4 separate regions of the Homo sapiens genome follow, and all the other regions are linked to region 1. The links come from fine-mapping of genetic effects on gene expression. A gene starts in region 1. Each other region holds a variant in brackets. All regions are shown on one strand. Distances are between the middles of the regions. Region 1 holds the start of ASIP (agouti signaling protein). Region 2 overlaps ASIP (agouti signaling protein). Region 3 overlaps RALY (RALY heterogeneous nuclear ribonucleoprotein). Region 4 has its middle 68 kb from the start of CHMP4B.

Evidence for each region. PIP is the estimated chance that this variant, and not a neighbour inherited with it, causes the effect. A credible set is the group of variants that fine-mapping cannot tell apart.
Region 2: its variant is the best candidate, but not a certain one, in a credible set for the expression of ASIP in skin (TwinsUK, PIP 0.83).
Region 3: its variant is the best candidate, but not a certain one, in a credible set for the expression of ASIP in unexposed skin (GTEx, PIP 0.53).
Region 4: its variant is the best candidate, but not a certain one, in a credible set for the expression of ASIP in tibial nerve (GTEx, PIP 0.79).

The regions. Positions count from the first base shown.
Region 1 is chr20:34,239,164-34,244,494 of GRCh38, reverse strand. ASIP (agouti signaling protein) reads right to left here and starts at 3,072. Exons shown (of 4, transcript NM_001672.3): 1 at 3,006-3,072. It also overlaps a transcript of AHCY not described here. RefSeq lists enhancers at 1,479-1,980, 3,034-3,183, 3,204-3,273.
Region 2 is chr20:34,259,372-34,264,702 of GRCh38, reverse strand. It overlaps ASIP (agouti signaling protein), which reads right to left. Exons shown (of 4, transcript NM_001672.3): 2 at 4,169-4,338; 3 at 1,810-1,871. The coding sequence starts at 4,328. It also overlaps a transcript of AHCY not described here. Among named protein-coding and RNA genes, the nearest start is that of ASIP, 21 kb to the right of the region's middle. The variant T/C (reference allele first, on the strand shown) is at 3,093.
Region 3 is chr20:34,074,414-34,079,744 of GRCh38, reverse strand. It overlaps RALY (RALY heterogeneous nuclear ribonucleoprotein), which reads right to left. Exons shown (of 10, transcript NM_016732.3): 6 at 3,705-3,871; 7 at 2,930-3,043; 8 at 2,500-2,717; 9 at 1,192-1,240. The coding sequence ends at 1,196. Among named protein-coding and RNA genes, the nearest start is that of MIR4755, 28 kb to the right of the region's middle. RefSeq lists an enhancer at 2,146-3,345. The variant T/C (reference allele first, on the strand shown) is at 1,803.
Region 4 is chr20:33,876,595-33,881,925 of GRCh38, reverse strand. No RefSeq gene overlaps it. Among named protein-coding and RNA genes, the nearest start is that of CHMP4B, 68 kb to the right of the region's middle. The variant CAAATAA/A (reference allele first, on the strand shown) is at 2,169.

The sequences.
Region 1 (5,331 bases):
TTTGGTAATGTCAAAGGCGGGCACCTCAGACACATTTTAGACATTAATCATCATCATTGTTCTGAGTGGAAGGCCATTCAGAGAGGCTAGAGGTTCTTATTCTGGCTATAAATTATGTGAGTAAAATTCTGCTAACCAATGAAAAATACTGTACACCCATGCTCAAGATGTAGTCCTGGAAATAGCAAGTGAAACATGTCTTCTCACAAGAGAAGTTTTAATGACAAGAGAAGTAAAAATGACAGTTTTAATGATGCATTAGATGAATTTAAACTTTAAATCAGATGCTGCAAATTGGAAGGAAGACTTGCGGTGTTTGTTCTAAATTGCTGCGGACACTTCTAAGAAACTTAGAGCCCACAAAACCATGGTTTATTGTCATGCAAATTACGATCTTGAATGAGAGTTTTTTTGTTTGTTTGTTTGTTTTGAGATGGAGTCTCACTCTGTCGCCCAGGCTGGAGTGCAGTGGCGCAATCTCGGCTCACTGCAAGCTCCGCTTCCCGGGTTCACGCCATTCTCCTGCCTCAGCCTCCTGAGTAGCTGGGACTACAGGCGCCCGCCACCACGCCCGGTTAATTTTTTTGTATTTTTAGTAGAGACGGGGTTTCATCGTGTTAGCCAGGATGGTCTCGATCTCCTGACTTCATGATCCACCCGCCTCGGCCTCCCAAAGTGCTGGGATTACAGGCGTGAGCCACCGCGCCCGGCGAGACAGTTTTTTTTTTTTTTTTTTAAATACAATATTAGAAAAATGTAAAGTATTAGAAAGATGTAAAATTTAAAAATGAAATTCTGCATTAACTGTGAATTCTACTAAATAGAATTACTGGTGGAGCAAATTTATCCATCGAGACTATCTGGTATGTGTTACATATGTATTCTGTTGGTGCTGGCAGATGTCTGTGTGCCTGTATCAACATGTGCTCCACAGTTCTTAGCAAATGCAGTTTCAATCCATAGCTAGCCAGCAGTGGATGTTACCACAGGAAAATGCAGGATTAAAATTGTCCTTGTGTAAAAAAAAATTCAGAATAATTTTTTCTTAACAACACTAAAATTATTTGATCTCTTGGGCTGTATCTACATACACGTACCGATTTCACTATTGTGACTGAATTGGCTAGTCTAATTGTTATGCCTAACAGATGCCAAATTGAATAATATTTTAATGGGTGGTTTGAATCTTCTGTAGACAACCTGCTTCAGAACTCTTCTTTGAGACCAAGAACCATATGGCAGGCCCAGACTGCCTGAGGGGTCCTGAGTTAGAACTTGAGAGAAGACTTGAGGCTGTGTCCCTTCTCAAGGGACAAAAGGACAAGACTCCTTCAGGCAGCTGTTTGTCAGTGTGAAATCTGTCTCCCTGTTCCACTGAAACAGGGGTCAGAGTCTAGGCTTCCCAGATGTTCATTCCCACAGTGTACAAGGAATACAATGCTGATAGGCGATGCTAAATGATTGTTTTAGATCTCCTGACATCATTCCCTTTAGGCTGTTTTATCTATCATTACTCAACAAAGACCTTAGTGGGTACTATATTGGTTTTGTTTATGCTCTCCAGAAATCACTTCTCTGCCTTTTCTCCTTCTCAGTAATCATGTCTTTTGATTTCTGAATTCCTTTACCTGGGGTGCATTCTGCACAAGCACTCATTAAGCATAGCTGAAGCTGAGCTGACAGTCTGTGACAGCTCTCAACAACTTTACAGCAGAAGGAGGGAAGAGGCTTTGATGTGAGATGAAATTTTCTGCAGAAGAGGATTAAGTCAGAACCAAGGAGATATAGCTGAGCAAATCTTAAGAATATGTATGCATTAGTTCTATTTGGAGAAAGTAGAAAAGGTTTTGAGACAGACATTTATGAAAGTGTTTTTCATTTTGTTTTGTTTTGTTGTTTGTTTGTTTTTTGAGTGGGTCCCAGTAAGGCATCCAAAATAACCAAAGAAAACCCAAAATGACTGGCTGGGTGCTGTGGCTCACGCCTGTAATCCCAGCACTTTGGGAGGCTGAGGTGGGCAGATCACCTGAGGCCAGGAGTTTGAGACTAGCCTGGCCAACATAGTGGAACCCTGTCTCTACTAAAAATACAAAAATTAGCCAGGCGTGGTGGTGTGTGCCTGTTGTCCCAGCTACTCAGGAGCCTGAGGTGGGAGAATCGTTTGAACTCAGGAGGCAGAGGTTGCAGTGAGCCAAGATCATGCCATTGCACTCCAGCCTGGGTGACAGTGAGACTCCGTCTCAAAAATAAATAAGTAAATAAATAAAATAAAATAAAAATAATAAAATAAAATAAAATAAAAATTTTAAAAAGGAAACCAAAAATGACTTCACTATGCCATCCCATTTAGCCTCTTTAATCTCCTCCAATGGAAACAGCAGAACAAAATGTTCCATATCACTGAAGCAGAGCGAACTCACCTACAATTGAAAACATTAACCTGAGCTTCCTTTAATGGGCATTAAAATGTGTGAATATGGATATCCATTCAGAAAAGTCAAACATTTACAAAGGAAAAGGAGAGTCTGCAATAAATGGAATTTTGGTCATCTGTTTCATCTCTAATAAATATGAAATGAACAAATGCTACACGTGCAGACTGATCCCTAAATCCTAAATTCTGCTCTGTAAGAGTTATTAGAAATCTGAAACCACAAGCAACTTTCTGAAGACATTTAAAGAAGCATTAAAGTGTGACTTTGGGGTCAGGGTCGATATTTAGGAGTACTTCTTTCTTAGATATACATATAGATATATTTATTTATTCGTTTACTGCTAGGCAATGGAAAAGGCACAGAGTAAAGAGAAAGAAGCCACTAGTTAGCAAAAGATCAACTGCTTTCTTCACACTGAACTCCTCTTAACTACTCTGACCCACAAAAGTGAATCAAAAAAATCTGTTTAACTTTCCAAGAAAGGAGGGATAACTGTTAAGTCCTTTCAACTTTCCAAAGTAGCAGCAGCTTCACTCCTGAAAGCAGATTAAAGTTGCCATCTAAACTCACATGCTTTCCCGCAAAGAGCCCAGGCCAAGGAACTTCCTTTTTCACCTTGCAGCTGTAGAGATTTGCTGCTTGCTCATCTATAACTTCAAAGACAAGAACAAGAAAACAACCAATCATACTACAAAATTATTTCAAACTTCACCACATCTCACAGGCAGGAAGGTTCTTTCAGATCCACAGTGAAAATAGGAAATGTTTCATCAGCTGAAAGGCAGCTGCAAGCAGATCAAGAGAGGTTTTACAAAAGAAGCAAAAGGTAAAGGGTTATCCTTTATTTTACAAAGGAGCTCTCTAGCAACCCAGTTCATATAAAAGTTAAACTTAGAGAAGAAAATAGAATCTCTATAGGCGGCAGAAGAAAAGAAAATTGTTTCCTCCTATTTACGGTGCAAGTGACTGTGCCTCTATTAGCCCCTCTAAGGGTCGCCAAAGCAGAGCGTCTTTCCTGTCCGTGGATAGCAGAGGCAAGGCGTGTTGCTCTGAGATTTTTTAAAGATCCCAGGATCTCCCAGAGCTGGCTTCCCCACCTCATCTCTTTGCTTTCAGCCAAGCAAACGTCATGCCTTCATACTCATTCTGGTTGCCAGAAGTCTTGTGGTCTGTTCTTCCCATATTTCTCCCAATTCTTTAGAATTGGAATTGATGTTGACATTGAGGTTACAAGGGATTGGAAGGGAAGTGGTTGCATCAAGGATACTCCAAGGGCAGAGTTTAATGAAAATTTAATTCAGAATGGATCCCAAGAGACGGAATAAAACAGTCTAATTGAGTTAACCTAGAAAAACAAGTCCTGCCAAAGAAGGGTCTAATTCAGCTTGTTTCAGAAATTCCGGGTGAGTTAAGGAGTAGTTGGTGGAGAAGCTAAACTCTTGATGGGCAGATTGCTGAGGCCCAGCCCACCTTATTAGTAAAATCTCTTTGGGACCTTTTTTTGCAGGAATATTGGTCTCATAATTTTCAGATTTCAGTCAAAGGGCTGTACTTACACAGACTCAAAAACTATGACGCTGCAGTTCTTTTCTTCTCCTTACTTAGTTGGTTTTCCTTGGATCAACTAGAATTTACAAGGTTATGTGAAAGCTGATCACACAAACTGGGTCATTCTTGTCATACCCAACTAAATCAGAGTCTAGGGACCAGGAGGGAAGAAGCACTTGGGGCACAGCACCTGCTCCATGAATTAAATTTTTCACAAGCCCAGCTGCTAAAATGGCCTGCTGTAACCCCAAGACTAGTTTAGTAGCTGCTGAAACATGACTTTAAGAATAGTTTTGCCTACCACCATCACTCACCAATCAGAGTTTGCCAGCTCCCAAATGCTTCTTTTTTCTCTTTTTTTCCCTTCTTTCCAAATGATTCTTTAGTGCCAATGAGCTTTCTTTCAAAACAGTATAGAACATTTCTCTAATAAAACTCCCAACCTTCTTTCTGTTCCTCAGACACACTGAAGACCACCTGGTTAGTGTGTATGCCTCAAACTGCAATCCTTGCTTCCAAAATAGAATGCTTTAAAGTTAGAGATTCATCGCTATGTTTTATTTTGACTTCAACAGTCACAATGTATTGCTTCCTGGATAATGTGGAGCTTAGAGGCTCTGCAGAAGAAAGTAGGTTAATATGGGGCCCTGCAATAAACATTGTCTGTTTTCGTGGTGATGGGTGCAGAAGAGTGGGATAGGGGATGGCACACCCCTACATTATCCTTATTTCTAGGAACCAATTTCTTTTGGTGATTTGTAGAGACAAGGGCAACTGGAAAGATAAGTGAATAGGGAGTCAGGAGATCTGGATTCCAGTTTAGGCTTTGTTACTTTCTCTCTGATCTTGGACAAGTCACATAAACTGTCTGAACACTGCTATCTCATCTACCAACCACACTGGGCTGAAAAGAGGATCCAATGAGATAATGTAGACGCCTTGAAAACTCTGAAGCATTCCACAAATGTGAATGTTTTCCAAATTTTAGTTCATTATATGACCCACCAAGTAAGGCTTTGGATAAAGAATTTGATTGGGAGGCCGAGGTGGGTGGATCACCTGAGGTCAGGAGTTCGAGAAGAGCCTGGCCAACATGGTGATACCCCGTCTCTACTAAAAATACAAAAAATAGCCAGGTGTGGTGGCAGGTGCCTGTAGTCCCAGCTACTTGGGAGGCTGAGGCAGGAGAATCGCTTGAACCTGGGAGGCAGAGGTTGCGGTGAGCCAAGATTGTGCCACTGCACTCCAGCCTGGGCCAGTCTCAAAAAAAAAAAAAGTATTTGAACATGGGGTTGGGAGGAGAAGAGGAACATACTGAGTCTGATGGATATTAGGTGGTGAGATGGGG
Region 2 (5,331 bases), 20 kb before region 1:
ATTTACAGTACTGTACTGTATTTATTGATACCGTAAGTTTACTTCATCTGTTTACAAGATGTATTGTCTGTCTGAAATAGTAAGCAACCAAAGCTTCAGACCTCAACCTATAGTATCAATCAAGTAATTCAAGCAACTTTTTCTTGTAATGTCATGACTCTTCTTTGCTTCTTGGGAACACTTCCAGAATCACTAGTAGCACCTAGTATGGGTCCCTTGGTACTACTCAAGGTTTACAATATTGCATTAAACACATTGAAAAATACACGAGAACCTTGAGGGATCACATTTTACTGCAATATGTGATTTCCTGGTGAGACTCCTTGTGCAGAGATGATTAGCTCACAGAGCGTTGTAAGCACGTACTCGCAACACCTGAGCATGCCGCAATGGCAACAGGAGGTATCTTCACAATTATGATGGTAGTACAGTATGTACTGCAGTTGTTTACACAGTTATGATTTAGTACTACATCTTTACATTTGGTTATTTTCTTTCTATTTTGAATGGTATGTACTGTCTGTGTGTACATATGTTTTGGGAAATTTTAATTTTTTATAATAGATTTATGTATATTGTATGATAGCAAGTGATAAAATAGACTAGTATCTACATATATTTTATGCATTAATGACATACTTTTTTTTCATTTTTTAAATATTTCTAGGTAACAAGATTCACCTGTTTTTTCTAATTGTCAATCTTCAAAAATATTTTCCAATTTAAAAAGTCAGCTGGGCAAGGTGGCTCACCCCTGTAATCCCAGCACTTTGGTAGGCTGAGGCAGGTGGATCACCTGAGGTCAGGAGTTCGAGACCAGCCTGACAAACTTGGCGAAACCCCATCTCTACTAAAAATACAAAAACATTAGCTGGGCATGGTGGCATGTGCCTGTAATTCCAGCTACTCGGGAGGCTGAGGCATGAGAATCGCTTGAACTCGCCAGGTGAAGGTTGCAGTGAGCCAAGATCACGCCACCGAACTCTGGCCTGGGCAACGAGAGCGAAAACTCCATCTCAAAAAAAAAGAAAAAAAAAAAAAGACATAAAATAACCAATGTATAAGTGGACCCATGAGTTCAAACACATGTGTTCAAGAGTCAACTGCATTTTTTAAGTTTTAATTTTTTGTTGTTGTTGTTTTGAGACAGAGTTTCACTCTTGTCACCAGGCTGGAGTGCAATGGCTCAAGCTCACTGCAACCTCCACCTCCCGGGTACAAGCAATTCTCCTGCCTCAGCCTCCCAAGTAGCTGGGATTACAGGCGCCCACCACCACGCCTGGCTAATTTTTGTATTTTTAGTAGAGACGGGGTTTCACCATGTTGGCCAGGCTAGTCTCGAACTCCTGACCTCAGGTGATTCACCCACCTTGGCCTCCCAAAGTGCTGGGATTATAGGCGTGAGCCACCGCATCCGGCCTAAGATTTAATTTTAAACAAATATGTTAAATAAATAGGTGGAACTCAGATATGGCAAAGTTATAAATGTGGTTCTGAAATGACTGAGGTTTGGGAAACACCACATTCATCCAAAAGTATGAGTGATGGTGAAATTTCAGGCAGGGGCTAACTAGTAGAGGAAGCTGCTTTTCGTAACCTATTTTGCTCAGTGGACTTCAGCTCCCTGGGCTTCTGTGGGTGTCTGGCTCAGAGCTCAAGCCAGGAAGTCTTTAGTAGCTTTCAGTTTCTTTTGTTAATATAGGCCTGAAAAATCTTTCATTTAGTTCCTAGCCAGAGGTTGGGGGTCCTCCTTCTTTAAGTCCAGTCTCACCCCAACAATGAGAACTCCCAGAACTTCCCTGCCCTTACCTTAGAAGATCTTTTCTTTTCTGCTGCTTTTCTGCCGATCTGTTTGGATTTCTTGTTCAGCGCTTCAAAGAGAGACAAAAGGAGCAAAGTCAGATGTTTCTGGGGACGTTGAGCTGCAGTGAAGTGAGAGGGGCAGAGGGGGCTTGGGAAGTCACAAGGTCAGGGAGAGGAGAAGAAGCGTGCTGGATGAGTCACACTGTAGGACTCAAGCCAGTAGGTTCTTGTTAGCCCGGCTACTGACCTGGAGCCAGGCACTGATAGCAACGTGTCCTCTGAGGGAAGGCAAATGGGAAATCCAAGCAGGCACTGGGATCTGCCTGTGACACTCTTGTGGGGCCTGGTCCCTCGACCTAAGTGAGCTTGGGCCACTCAGAGCCACCCCAGGTGCCCCTTCCTTCATCTCCATTGTGGCAGGCACAGGAACATTGTGATACCCAGAAAATGGACTCCTGTCTTGTACACAGATGCACCTGTGTTTCCTATTTTCCATTCCTGAGAGCTCTGGAGCCAGGAGGACCTGATTTGAATCCTGACTCTGCCAATATAATGACTATGTGGCTGTGGGTAACTTACTTATCCTCCATGAGACTCAGTTTTTTCATCTGCAAAAAAGGTTCCATAATATCTGCCTTGCAGTATTGTCTTGAGGATAAATGAAGTCTGTTTATAAAGTGAAAAGTCTGTTACACTGAAGATCAATAAATGTTGATGTTCCTCCCTTCCCTGTCTGATATGTGTAGAATATCCTCTTTCTTTCTTCTTCTTCTTTTTTTTTTCTTTTGAGACAGAGTCTCACTCTGTTGCCCAGGCTGGAGTACAGTGGTGCGATCTCGGCTCACTGTGACTTCTGCCTCCTGGGTTCAAGTGATTTTCCTGTCTCAGCCTCCCAAGTAGCTGGGATTACAGGCATGTACCACCACACCTGGCTAATTTTTGTATTTTTAGTAGAGATGGGGTTTTGCCATGTTGGCCAGGCTGGTCTCAAACTCTTGACCTCAGGTGATCTGCCCACCTTGGCCTCCCAAAGCGCTGGGATTAGAGGTGTGAGCCACCGCGCCTGGCCGATTATTTATTTATTAAAAAATTTCTTTTTTGAGTCAGGGTCTGTCTGTCACCCAGGCTGGAGTGCAATGGTGTGATCATAGCTCACTGCAGCGTCGACCTCCTGGGCTCAAGCAATCCTCCTGCCTCAGCCTCCCAAATAGCTGGAACCATAGGCATGCACCACCATTCCCGGCTAGTTTTTGTTTGTTTGTTTTTGAGACAGGATCTCACTCTGTCAC[T/C]CAGGCTGGAGTGCAGTGGCACAATCATGGCTCATTGTAGGCTCAAACTCCTGGGCTCAAGTGATCCTCCTGCCTCAGCCTCCCAAGTAGCTAGGACTACAGGCGCATGCTACCATGCCTGGTTAATTTTTGTATTTTTAATAGGGACGGGGTTTCACCCTGTTGACCAGGCTGGTCTTGAACACCTGAGCTCAAGAGATCTGCCCGCCTCAGCCTACGAAAGTGCTGGGATTACAGGTGCATGCCACGTGCCTTGCTAGTTTTTAAATTTTTCTGTAGAGACGGGGTCTCCCTATGTCGCTCAGTCTGGTCTTGAACTCCTAGGCTCAAACAATCCTCATGCCTCCAGCTTCCCAAAGTGCTGGGATTACAGGTGTGAGCCACCTCACCCAGCCTCAAATATCCTCGTTTCCTAGCAAAAGCCGAGGTAGTAAGAGATATTAGTTTTGAGCTTAGGTTCTGGAGTTAAGTACCTGATTTTGAATTCTGGCTTTGCCAGTTAAAAACTGTGTGATCCGTGCTAGTTACTTAATTCTCCTAAGCCTCAAGTTCCTCAACTGTGAAATATGAATAAAGACCATACTCACCTCACAGTGCCTACCACACAGTATGTCTATGATTATTATCAGGTGAAGTCAAACCAGATCTCCAATGCCAGGCTCCAGTGCCCCTCATATTTTCCCCTGAGCCTTCATTCCCAACCCTGACATGACAGGACTGGTCCATCCCAGACTTGCATATGTTCTGGAGCATTTCCTGAAGTTTGTTACTGTTGACAGGAGTTCTGTGATTCATTAAGTTTCAGAAATGCTAAATTAAACAAAGTTCACCAAGTGTCTTAACTTCAGGCCTTTCAGAGCCTCTACCATATGCTAAGCTGCTTATTAGACTGGTGGCATGCAGAGCTTTCCCAAACCAAATGAGTCAAGGGCCACCTTATTCTCCCAGGATTATTTCCTGGAACGAGCAAGAAGGAGCCGTGACCATGGCGGTGGATCCTGGTAGCACCCTGGGAAGCATGCTTGATCTCCTGCAGCCCCTCTCCTGGGCCAGAGCCCAGAGGCTAGGTGACTTACCCACAATAGAGACAGAAGGGACATCCAGTAGGTTCACAGAGGAGTTGCTTCTCAGGCTCCTGTCATCTCGGAGCTTCTCCTCAGGTGGCAGGTGGCTGTTGGCAGTGAAGAAGCAGAGGAAGACCAGCAGGGTGGCCAGGAGTAAGCGGGTGACATCCATCCCAGGAGGCCTGAGTGGGACAGAGAAGGTGGTCAGGTGGGTGGGTCAGGGGTAATGGTAAGAGGCCTTCCTGCTTTCTTTGTGCTTCTTTGGGCTGGTGTTGTGACCCTGTTAGGCAAGTGTCCTGGTGGAGCTGGAGGATTAGCAAGGCTTAGGATGGGGAAGGGGAATTGATGAGGGAAGAAGAGAGAAGAGAGATGGGAAGAGGAAGAGAGAAAGACAAGGAACAGAAGGAGATTGGAGCAAAGAGAAAAAGCAATGCATTGCACTGGTCTCTGCTGTCCAGAGGGTGGTGTGTTGGCTGCTTCTGTGTGTTTTTTTAATGTCTGTGGCCCCAGGAGACCCCAGGCCTGGGCAGAGTTGTTGAAAGGCCCCCAGTAGGGCCTCACAGTAGCAGAGATTTTATTAAGATGTACAGAATAAGGCTAATAAATTAAGTCTCAGTGAGAAAGATGAAGAGGTAAGTGGCCCCTTCAGACAAGCATATATGTTGGCTCATATCCTAGATTCCCAAACCCAGAGAGAACGAATGCAGGTATAGTTTGTGTCAGGAGGATGGAGCTGTTGACATAGGCCCCCTGGATTTATGTATTTATTTATTTGCTAGCTGGATTTTTTTTTTTTTAGATGGAGTCTCTCTCTTGTTGCCCAGGCTAGAGTGCAGTGGCATAATCTCGGCTCACTGCAACCTCCACCTCCCAGGTACAAGTGATTCTCCTGCCTCAGTCTCCTGCCCCAGTAGCTAGGGCTACAGGTGCCCATCACTATGCCAGGCTAATTTTTGTATTTTTTGTAGAGACAGGATTTTACCACATTGGCCAGACTAAGCATTTTATATTTTCTAACTCTTTTTATTTTTTTTGAGACAGAGTCTTGCTCTGTCAGCTAGGCTGGAGTGCAGTGGCACGATCTTGGCTCACTGCAACCTCCTCCTCCCAGGTTCAAGAGATTCTCGTGCCTCAGCCTCCAGAGTAGCTGGGATTACAGGTGCCCACCACCACAC
Region 3 (5,331 bases), 160 kb after region 1:
TCTCACCCGCTCTCTGAACCTCCATTTCCTCACCTGAGCCCATATAACTCACCTGTGAACTATTTTAACAAGCTTTGGAAAGCACCAGGCACAAAGGGGTGTAGCAGGATGGCTGGATATGGAGGTTTGTTTGCATCCCAGGCAAAACAAACCAAGAAGTTCCAAAAGAAGACTGCATATGTACAATTTTCTAAAGCTCTTCTGGAAGCCTTTGCTGGTGGGATATCTTACTACAGCATAAATGTGTCATCTATCCAGACACCTCCCTGGAAACACTAGTGTTTGAGACCTTCCTCCACCCAAGCCACCCCAAGGGAATGGGTCAGAGAGTAGTAGGCACAGCCAGGTGTGGCCTGGCTTTCCTTTAAGGTAGGGCAGAGTAGATGGTAAACAGTGGCCAGAGAGTGGGCTTTGAAGCCACACACCACTGGGCTGAAATCCAGGCTCCACCAACTACTACCTTATCTCCCTGCACCCTTTAGTGTCTGTTTCCACATCTATTATATTGGTACAATCATCAGCTTGTGGGATTGAAGATGAACTCAGAGAAAGCAGGTGCAGCTCCTGTCACACAGGGCATTTCCTCCCCATGAAAGAATCAAATCCCAGCCCCTAAGCCTGACACATACGGCCCTTCACAATCATCACCCTCTGACAATAAGCAGAGTCCTCTACCAACTAGGGGGGCACTGCAGCCACAGGAGGCTCTTGGCCTCACCACATACCAAGGACTGTCACAGCTCTGTATGGCTAAGGCCATTCCCCTGGTGTGGAACATTGCTCCCTCAATCACTAGCAGGCTCAGCTACACATCATCTCTTCCATGACCTGGCCTCGCTCTATTGTTATCCTGCTCACACTAGGTGGTAATGGCTTATGTCTTCCTCTACCAGACTAGGAGCTCCTCAAGGGCAGAGACAGGCAACATGGCTGAGTGTGCTGAGGGAAGGAACCCTTGCTAGGTGGGCCCGCCTGGCCCATCTACGGCACCTGCTTCCTCAGCATGGCAAGCCCCAAGCATGAAGGGGTGTGACGGGATGGCTAGATATGGAGGGGACTTCATTCTTGGGTATAGTCAGTGCTACTTGGCCAGGTATGCTTCGTGACACTTCCTGCCCAATCCAGGGAAAAGGCACAACCTCCACTTCACTGATTCCCCACCCTCTGCCCATCAGGACAGGACCCCTGTACCTGCTTACTGCAAGGCCCCATCATCCGCGTCTGTGTCCTGGCTGTGTTCCTGATAGGGAGGAGGTAAGAGAGACCACACATCACTCATTGCCAGCTCTGAGTCCTGCCCTGAGCCATTTGTCCAGAAAAACTTCATGGTCCAGAGGGCATCTAGAGGACACAGTCAGAAGACGCAGGAACAGCCAAGGGGAATGACTATGGGACCAGCCAACAAAGCTGGCTTGGGAACTTGGAAGGGTGGTCTGAGGACCCCACACAGGCCAGTGAAGGGTGTTCTGGGAGTGGCAGGAGCCCCATTTCTGTGCAGAGAGCCTGCACTGGAGAAGGCTGAAAGCCTTATAGACTGGTGAGCTCCCCATCTCTGGGGGCATCCAAGTCTTTGTTAGGGCCTTTATGGACACTGCTATGCCTGAGAAAATAAGATGAAGGATCAGGCTACGCTCAAAGGAGAGATGAGCTAGCATAAGGCAGACCTCCTAACCGTCATGGCCATGAGCCCATCTGTTCTCACGATAGAACCCAGCAGTGCTGAAAAGGAGAAAGCTGCAGATCCAGCAAGTCAGTCTGGACTCCAACCCTGGCTCAGTCCCTACGAGCTGATGCCCTGAGCA[T/C]GCCACTCAGCCTTTCTGAGCCTCGATTTCCTCACAGGGTAAAATGTGGGAACAGAATACTCTGCATAGTACAGGGCTCTTGTTAAGGTTATGTGAAGTTAGAGAGTATGATCTGGGTCTTGGTGCTCAATGAGCGCTCATTAAGTAAATGAGCAGCAAGTGTACAACCCATATCCCACAGACTCAGAGTTTGGTCCACCCTCCCACTCAACATAAGCTCCTTGTCAAATGGCCTGCCGGCCTCAGCCTGAATAGTTCTAGTAACAGGCGGGGAGCTCACCCCCTTATGAGACAGCTTTTGCTTCATGCTTAAGCAGCAATGGCTTTTAGAAAAACCCACCTCCTGGCTGTGGCCTCCACAAGCCACCCCAGCCCTGCTCTGAAGCTCTGCAGGCCGTGTGTGCTCCCTTATGTCCGAATCTCCCATTCTCCAACTCATGTGGAAACCGGAGGCCAGAATGTGCCCGCATTTGGGGGAGGTCTGCCCTAGGCCTCAGTGGGACTTCTGATGGTGTCTGAGATAGGCAAGTGCCCCCTGCTCATTCTTCCCTCTTTCCCCCAGGACCAGAACCCCTGGGAAGGAGAGAACAGGAAGTTCACAGTGGGGGCAACCAGCTCAGGCTGCCCATTCCCCTGTTGGCCTCCTGAGAGTAGGAGCACAGTCGAGTCCCAGTCGTGCCCCTGGCCAGGCCCTCACCAGCTCTTCCTCGCTGTGTGTCAGGAGCCCTTCCTCATCGCCGTCGTCTCGGGTCCGTGCTTCCCCCTGGGGCAGGCCTGCCTCAGAAGTTGTGTTCTCTTGGGGGGCTGGTGGCCGGCTGCTGCCACCGCCACCGCCACCACCACTGCCACCGCCACCGCTGCCACCACCACCGCCGCCGCCGCCGGCGCCACCTCCATCACCCTTCTTCTTGCCATCTTGAGGGGAAGGGGTGGAGGAGGGGAGAATAAAACTCAGCCTGGGGTAGCTGTCTAGGGCAGCACCTTAGCGGAAGCTGGCCTCAGCATGGTGAGTGCAGGTGGTCCAGGATCTGCAGGGCCACCCTAGCTCCTCTCTCCCATGTACTATTTCCCCATGCTCTGCCCTGTGCCCTGGTCATGGAGGTGGGTGAGAATCCTCAGAGGCTGACCTGGATTGGCCTTTTGCTCCGCAGCGATCTGCTCCAAGCGGCTCAGCAGGGCATCGATATTGGACTTGATCTGTGTCAGCTCCGTCTTGATGGCCTGCAGCTCACTGCTCTTTACTGGGAGTGGAGGGGGGACAGGGCTGTCACCTAGGGGGCTGGAGGCTTGACACTAGCACAAAACCTCAGCCCTGTTCTTTCAACCAGGAAAGCAGTTATTTTTTGTTTTGTTTTGTTTTTTCCCTGCTTAGGAAAAAGGTCTCCTCCTTAGACTACCTGGCGTCCATCCCTACAGTGACAGCACACACTTCTGAACCTGGCTATCTTTTCTCCTGATCTCTCAACTCTGAAAGGGACCAAAGACAGACAGGAGCACAGGTGTGTATGTGTGGTGTGCTCTTCTGTGTGCACCTGAGCAAGAACATGTGTCTTTTGGAATCTGAATTCCTGGGTGATTAGTTAAGCAGCATGTGTGTACCAGAGTGAATGTGGAGTAATGGGCCTGGGTAGACCTGTCCTTATCCTTACTAGAGGAAAGATGGCACCATTTCTTCACTGGGCACCATATCCAGCACTGGACTCTCTGTGCCCAACACAACCCCTCCTCCTAAAACATCAGCTGTTTCCTCTTAGAAATGCATGAAAATACTTGGCTGTGTTAGAGCAGCAGAACTGTGGAAGACTTGTTGTTTTATCTATGTTCCAATGTAAAAAATGTGATTCTATTATTTTGCTAATGATAAAAATGCAAATTACTTAGGAATATGATACAGTCACTCACACTTGATCTTGGCTGAGCTGGTGGTGACAGCTGTGGAGCGGGCAAAGAGCTTGACAGGTACGTTAGTTTTGACACGCCGGACCAAAGGGACTGTGACCCGGGGTCGCTTCACAGGGACCGCCCTGGGCACTGGCACGGGCGACAGACGGCCCCGGTAGTCGAAGAGCCTGTGAGGGCAGATGGGCCAGAGGCTGCAGCATGGCTTGTGGCCACCAGGGCGGTATTGCAGCTCCGGCTACAAACGTGTGTGGCTGGTGAGGGGCTGGGAGGCCTGCACTACACACCTCTGCTGGCTCCTAGCAAGCCCTGGAGTGAAGAGGAAGGGCTTGCCGGACCCTGATGGCTGTTGGGATCCTCACTACCTCACTACAACCTCTCCAACCATCCAGGCCCAGTAAGGGCAGGCAAGGCATCAGGTGGTAGCAGTTATACCCCATTCAAAAGAGGAGACATCCCTAGGTCCCCTGGCACCCAGGCCTGCTCTATTACATGACCTGGCTTCTGCTTGGTCAACTGCCACCCCAACCTCTGCTCAGAGTTTGCAAATCTCAAAGCAGCACAAATCCCCAGCTAGGAATAGAGAGGTATGGGAGTGGGGGTCAACTGAGCCTACCTGAGCCTCAGTTTCCCCATATGCCAAATGAGGATGGCTATCCACATTCAGTGTCCACCCAAGGGCACAGCATGAAAGAATTCGGTTAAAAACACACTTTAGAACGTGTAATAGATGAAAGGTCAGGGTACTGAGACCCTCAATTCACGAACCCATGACCTCAGAGGCATAAGACTGAACTCTAAGCCCTTTCCTTACTTGACCTCCTTAATCACCACATCCTTCGTGCTCCATTCCAGAGACAAAGGCCAGGGGCTTGGTAGAGTATCAAGGTTGGGCAGCTCAATCAGACCCCCCCAGGGCTCCCAGGCTGTGCACTGCCCCCAACCAAAGTCATCTCCAAGCCCTCTCTAGGAGGGCTTCCTTTCCAGCTGACCAGGCAGAAACTCAGTAGGCTGAGAAGTGGTCTCTCTGACATCTGTTGCTGCCACCTTTTTCAGGGAATCGCAGCCCAGGGGGTAAACTTTGGGTCAATTTTCCTGACAACGGCCAGGAAACCTGCCATCACTGGGCAAAAGCCCCATTCCTTGGGGCTCCTTTGTTCAGGGAGCCCCTTCCTGGAGGTGGTGATGGCTGCAGATGGAGAGTCTCTGGGAATGGATCCGATCCCAGACCCTGCATTTCTGCCCCCAAGGGGAGGGAACGGCTCTGGCCTTGGTCAGAATCACTGAACCACAGAATCCCAGAGCTGGAGGAGCCTGGAGAGATCACTTGGTGCAAGCCCATTTCACAAACTGGGAAGGGAATTTGCCCAAGATCACATAATCCATTCAGTGGCAGAGCTGAGATTAGCATCTAAATCTTCTGACCCCCAGGCTAAGACACTTTCCACTACACCACACTGTCTCCTGAAACGACTCACAGGGGCGGGGTGGGGATGGGGGCGGACGACTCATGCTCAGAGAGGCACTGTTCTTCTTGGGCTGCCTGGGGTGGGCTAAGCTGGACAGAGGGAGAGAAGCAGGGAGGAGGAGAGATTTGAGTTAGTATCTACCATGATTTCTACTCAAGAAT
Region 4 (5,331 bases), 360 kb after region 1:
AAGGTACCACTGAAAAAACTCACTCTTCCCGCTTCCCTTGGAGCAGAGGCCACTATGTGGCAAGAGATAACACATAAGGCCGGGCGCGTTGGCTTGTGGCTGTAGTTTCAACACTTTTGTAGGCAGACGCAGGAGGATCGCTTGAGCTCAGGAGTTTGAGACCAGCCTGGGCAACATAGCGTGACCTGTCTCTACAAAAAAAAAAAAAAAAATTTCCGGGTGCGGTGGCTCATGCCTGTAATCTCAGCACTTTGGGAGGCCGAGGTCAGTAGATCACCTGAGGTCGGGAGTTCAAGACCAGCCTGACCAACATGGTGAAACCCTGTCTTTACTAAAAATACAAAATTAGCCGGGCGTGGTGGCACATACCTGTAATCCCAGCTACTCGGGAGGCTGAGGCAGGAGAATCGCTTGAACCCAAGAGGCAGAGGTTGCAGCAAGCTGAGATTTCACCATTGCACTCCAGCCTGGACAACAAGAGTGAAACTGTCTCAAAAAAAAAAAAAAAATTAAGTTAGCCAGGTGTGGTGGCACACACCTGTAGTCCCAGCTACTCAGGAGGCCGAGGTAGGAGGTTCACTTGAGCCTGGGAGGTTGAGGTTGCAGTGAGCTGTAATCACACCACTGCACTCCAGCCTGGGTGATGGAGTGAGACCCTGTCTCAAAACAAAGAAGCAAACAAAAGACAGAAGACATGGGGCATTTGGAGATGAGATGCCTGGAAGTGCAACAAGAGGGTTAAAGCCGCACCCCAAGGGTGCTAAAATGTGAAGATCAAAGGTGTCCAAGTCCCTGGCAGCTTCATGGAGCCACTAAGTCACCTGGGGCTGCCATATCCAGACTTCTGAATGGCACTGGGGTTTGAATGCCTCTGTGAGGACGAAAGACAAGGCTCCTGGCCCTGTGAGAGCCCTCCAGCTGAAACTAGGCTCCCTACATCAGGAAAAAGCTGGAAGTCAGCTGTTTCTTCTTGGGACTGGAAAAACTGCCCAATAACCTTGGGCTGCAGCCTAGAAGTGGGTGTCTTGCCCTGGGCCATAGAAAAAAAAAAGTCACCCAAGATAAACTGAAAAAACAAACAAAGCAAAAAGAAAGAGAGAAACTCAATAGGTGGGTTTGACAGTAGTCTGTCATATTCATTTACTGGCCCTGTCATAATAAAACAGTAGAGTGGCTTAAGCAACAGCAATCTATTAACTTTCAGTTCTGGAGGCTAGAAGTCCCAGATCAGGGTGCTGGTGTTTGGTTTTATCGGAGGTCTTGCTCTTTGGCTTGCAGACGGCCACCTCCTTGCTGTGTCCTCACATGGTCTCCCTTGCGCATGCTCATCCTTCCTGCCCCTTGGTGCATCCACATTTCCTCTTATAGGGACACCAGTCAGATTGCATTAGGGGCCACCCTGATAGCCTCATTTTAACTTAGTCACCTCTTCAAAGACCCTATCTCCAATATAATCACACTCAGAAGTATTGGGGGCTATAGAACACCTATCAGAGGTGTTCGCCCAGAATACAGCACAGAGAGAGATAAAGAAATGTGAAACATAAAGGGGAAGTTAAGATGGAGGATGAAATGAAATGATCCATTATATATCTAATAGGATGTACAACAGGAATAGGAATTCCAATAAGAGACAGTAAAGAGGATGTGGGAAAAGCAATAAAGGAAACTATAATAGGGGCCAGGCATGGCCCAGAACTTTGGGAGGCTGAGGCAGGCAGATCACTTGAGGTTAGGAGTTCGAGACCAGCCTGGCCAACATGATGAAACCCTGTCTTTACTAAAAAATACAAAAATTAGCCAGGTATGGTGGCGGGCACCTGTAATCCCCGCTACTCAGGAGGCTGAGACAGGAGGCGGAGGTTGCAGAGAGCTGAGATCACACCACTGCATTCCAACCTGGGTGACAGAGTGAGACTCTGTCTCAAAAAAATAAAATAAAATAAAATAAAATATAGTAAAATATAATATATAAGAATTTTTCAAATTGAAGAAAGCACTGTCTTCACAGAGAAAAGCCATAGTTCAGAGTGGGATAAAAATAAATCTAGGCTGAGTGCAGTGGCTCAAACATGTAATCTCAGCACTTTGGGAGGCCAAGGCAAGAGGATCACTTGAGTCCAGGAGTTCAAGACCAGCCTGGACAATATAGGGAGACTCTGTCTCTA[CAAATAA/A]TTTTAAAATTAGCTGGGTGTGGTGGCATGTGCCTGTGGTCCCAGCTACTTGGGAGGCTGAGGCAGGAGGATTACCCGAGTTCAGGAGGTCAAGGCTGCAGTGAACTATGATTATGCCACTGCGATCCAGTCTGGGTGACAGAGCCAGATCTTGTCTCAAAAATAAACAAATAAATAAAATCTACGCTTAGGCATGTCTAATTGCACTTGGACAACTTTAAGGGTAAAGAGAAAACTTTTGAAGCTGCCAGAAGGGTGGGAAAGACAGATTCCTTTCAAAGAAACAATTAGACTAAAAAATAGACTTCTAATTAGCAACAATAGGAGCCAGAAAGGAGTAGACTAATATCTCCAAACACAGTGAAAAAATACTTGTCAGCCTAGAATTCTATACCTAGCTAAACTGTCACTGAAGAGTGAGATCAAAACATATTTCCAGGTTGGGCGTGGTGGCTCATGCCTGTAATCCCAGCACTTTGGGAGGCTGAGGTGGGTGGATCACTTGAGGCCAGAAGTTCAAGACCAGCCTGGCCAACAAGTCGAGACCCTGTCTCTGCTAAAAATACAAAAATTAGCTGGGTGTGGTGGTGCACACCTATAGTCCCAGCTACTCAGGAGGCTGAGGCATGAAAATAGCTTGAACCCAGTGGGTGGAGGTTGTGCCACTGCCCTCCAGCCTGGACAATAGAGCAAGACTCTGTCTCAAAAAAAAAAAAAAAAATATATATATATATATATATTTCCAGATATACATGATTTAGAGTTTACTACCCACAGGCCCTCACCAAAAGATTAAAGGATGTGCTTCAACAAGAAGGAAAATGATTAAAGAGATAGAGAAGTGAATCCCATCTTGGTCATGTTATTTGAGTCTTTGATCAAGTTCAACCTGAAGATACTCCTGAACTTTTCAGTTTCAGGTGCCCACAAAGTCCCAATTCATTGAGGGACGGGGAATGAGTTATAATGTTCTCTCATTTTCAACCAAAAGAGCCCTGATTGACACCACAGCTTTCCCATAGATGCTAACTAAATCAGTAAGATCGGTTCCCCCAGCTTGTTGTTTGAAAGAGGTAAATAAATATGTGTTAAATAAATGAAACATGGTCCCTGTCTTTGTGAATCATGGAATCTCATAACTATTGATCAGGAGAGTTCTGAAGACATTGAATCTTGGACTCTGTCCCCACCTGTGACATCCTAGTTTATCTGGTCTTTGGACCAAGACCCAGCCCATCTAATGAGATTTCCTTCCTGTTTGTAATCCCCACACCACCACCAGCACCACCACCACCACCATCACACACACACACACACACACACACACACACACACACACACTCCTATTAAGCTCACTGTCCCTCCGGGGCCTGTGCCCACGACACCCTCACAACCCCTTCTCTGTTCCCTAGCGCCACCTTGAACACTTGCCAGGATACGGCTCCCAGCACTGCAGTGTGGTTGGTGAGCAACAGCAGAACACCCACGTGGCTTTTATTCCTCGAGCATCCCACTGACATGTGCCATGTAGTGTCAGATTTGGGGGTGACTTTAGGCAGGTGGAAGCAGACTGGGAAAATGAGGTGGCTGAACTTGATCTCTCCAAGGGTCTTACAGCCACAGTGAAGGGAGCCATCAAAGAGCTGGGTCTCCCAGTTCCCCACCTCAAATAGAGTCGGTCCCTCATGGTTTCTCTTATATATCTGGCTTTGATGTAAGATATTCCTTGGAGAAAGGGCTCTGTAACAAGTTTTGTTTTTGTTTTTGTTTTTTTGAGACACAGTCTCACTCTGTCACCCAGGCTGGAGTGCAGTGGTGCAATCATGGCTCACTGCAGCCTCGACCTCCCAGGCTCAAGTGATCATCAGACCTCAGCCTCCTGAGTAGCTGGGACTACAGGCACGCACCACCATACTAAGCTAATGTTATTTATTTATTTTTTTTTGAAGAGACAGGGTTTCACCATGTTGCCCAGACTGGTCTCAAATTCCTTAGCTCAAACAATCCGCCCACCTTAGCCTCCCAAAACTCTGGGATTACAGGCATAAGTCATGGTGCCTGGCCTATAACAAGTTTTAAAGATAAATTTGGAGCTGGCTATGGTGGCACACAACTGTAGTCCCAGCTACTTGGGAGGCTGAGGCAGGAGGATTATTTGAGAACAGGAGTTCCAGGCTGCAGTGAGCTATGATCAAACCACTGTGCTCCAGCCTGGTCAACAAGCAAGACCCCATCTCTCTTTTTTTTTTTTTTTAGACGGAATTTTGCTCTGTCCCCCAGGCTGGAGTGCAGTGATGCAAACTCGGCTCACTGCAAGCTCCACCTCCCGGGTTCACGCCATTCTCCTGCCTCAGCCTCCCAAGTAGCTGGGACTACAAGGCGCCCGCCACCATGCCCGGCTAATGTTTGTATTTTTAGTAGAGACGGGGTTTCACCGTGTTGGCCAGGATGGTCTCGATCTCCTGACCTTGTGATTCACCCACCTCGGCCTCCCGAAGTGCTGGGATTACAGGCGTGAGCCACCGCGCCAGGCTGCGAGACCCCAACTCTTAAAAAAAAAAAAAAGTTTTGAAAACACCCAGAGTAGATGAAATCTTAAGATCCCATGCAATTCAGTGCTCCACGATCCCTCTGAAAGTGTAGAGACCAGAGAGTGATGGCAGAGACCTTGGGCATCCCAGAGGCCCACCGCTCCCCGTGGAAGACATCTTAGGAAGATGTCTTCTGCCCGCCCTGCTCCAGACAGATTCACCCCGCACCTTTGCAAGGGAAGAAGTCAGTGTAGCGTCCCGCTGCCCTCCTCACTGGGCTCCATGGGAGTATTCGGGCCCAGGCTTGGTGAGATGACCTGGAATAGCTCATCGTGCCTGGGAGCCCCCATTTCCCCTAATGGGCTCATCAGCACAGGCTCCAGCACCATGTATCCTGTTGGCTGAATCAGGCAGTCAGTTTCCAGAGCCCTGAGCTCAGCAGTGGGTGGGGGCTGCGAATTAGGACTCTAACCCAGAGGAGGTTGATGGACTCGTCGCCGTTTGTAAGCCGGAGCACAGGGTGTTTGGTCCGTCCAGCGCCCCCACAACTGCCACTCTTGCGGTCAGACAGACGTCTTCTGGGAGGCAAGTCCAGTTGGCCCCTCGGTGAGAGCGCAGGAGAAGCA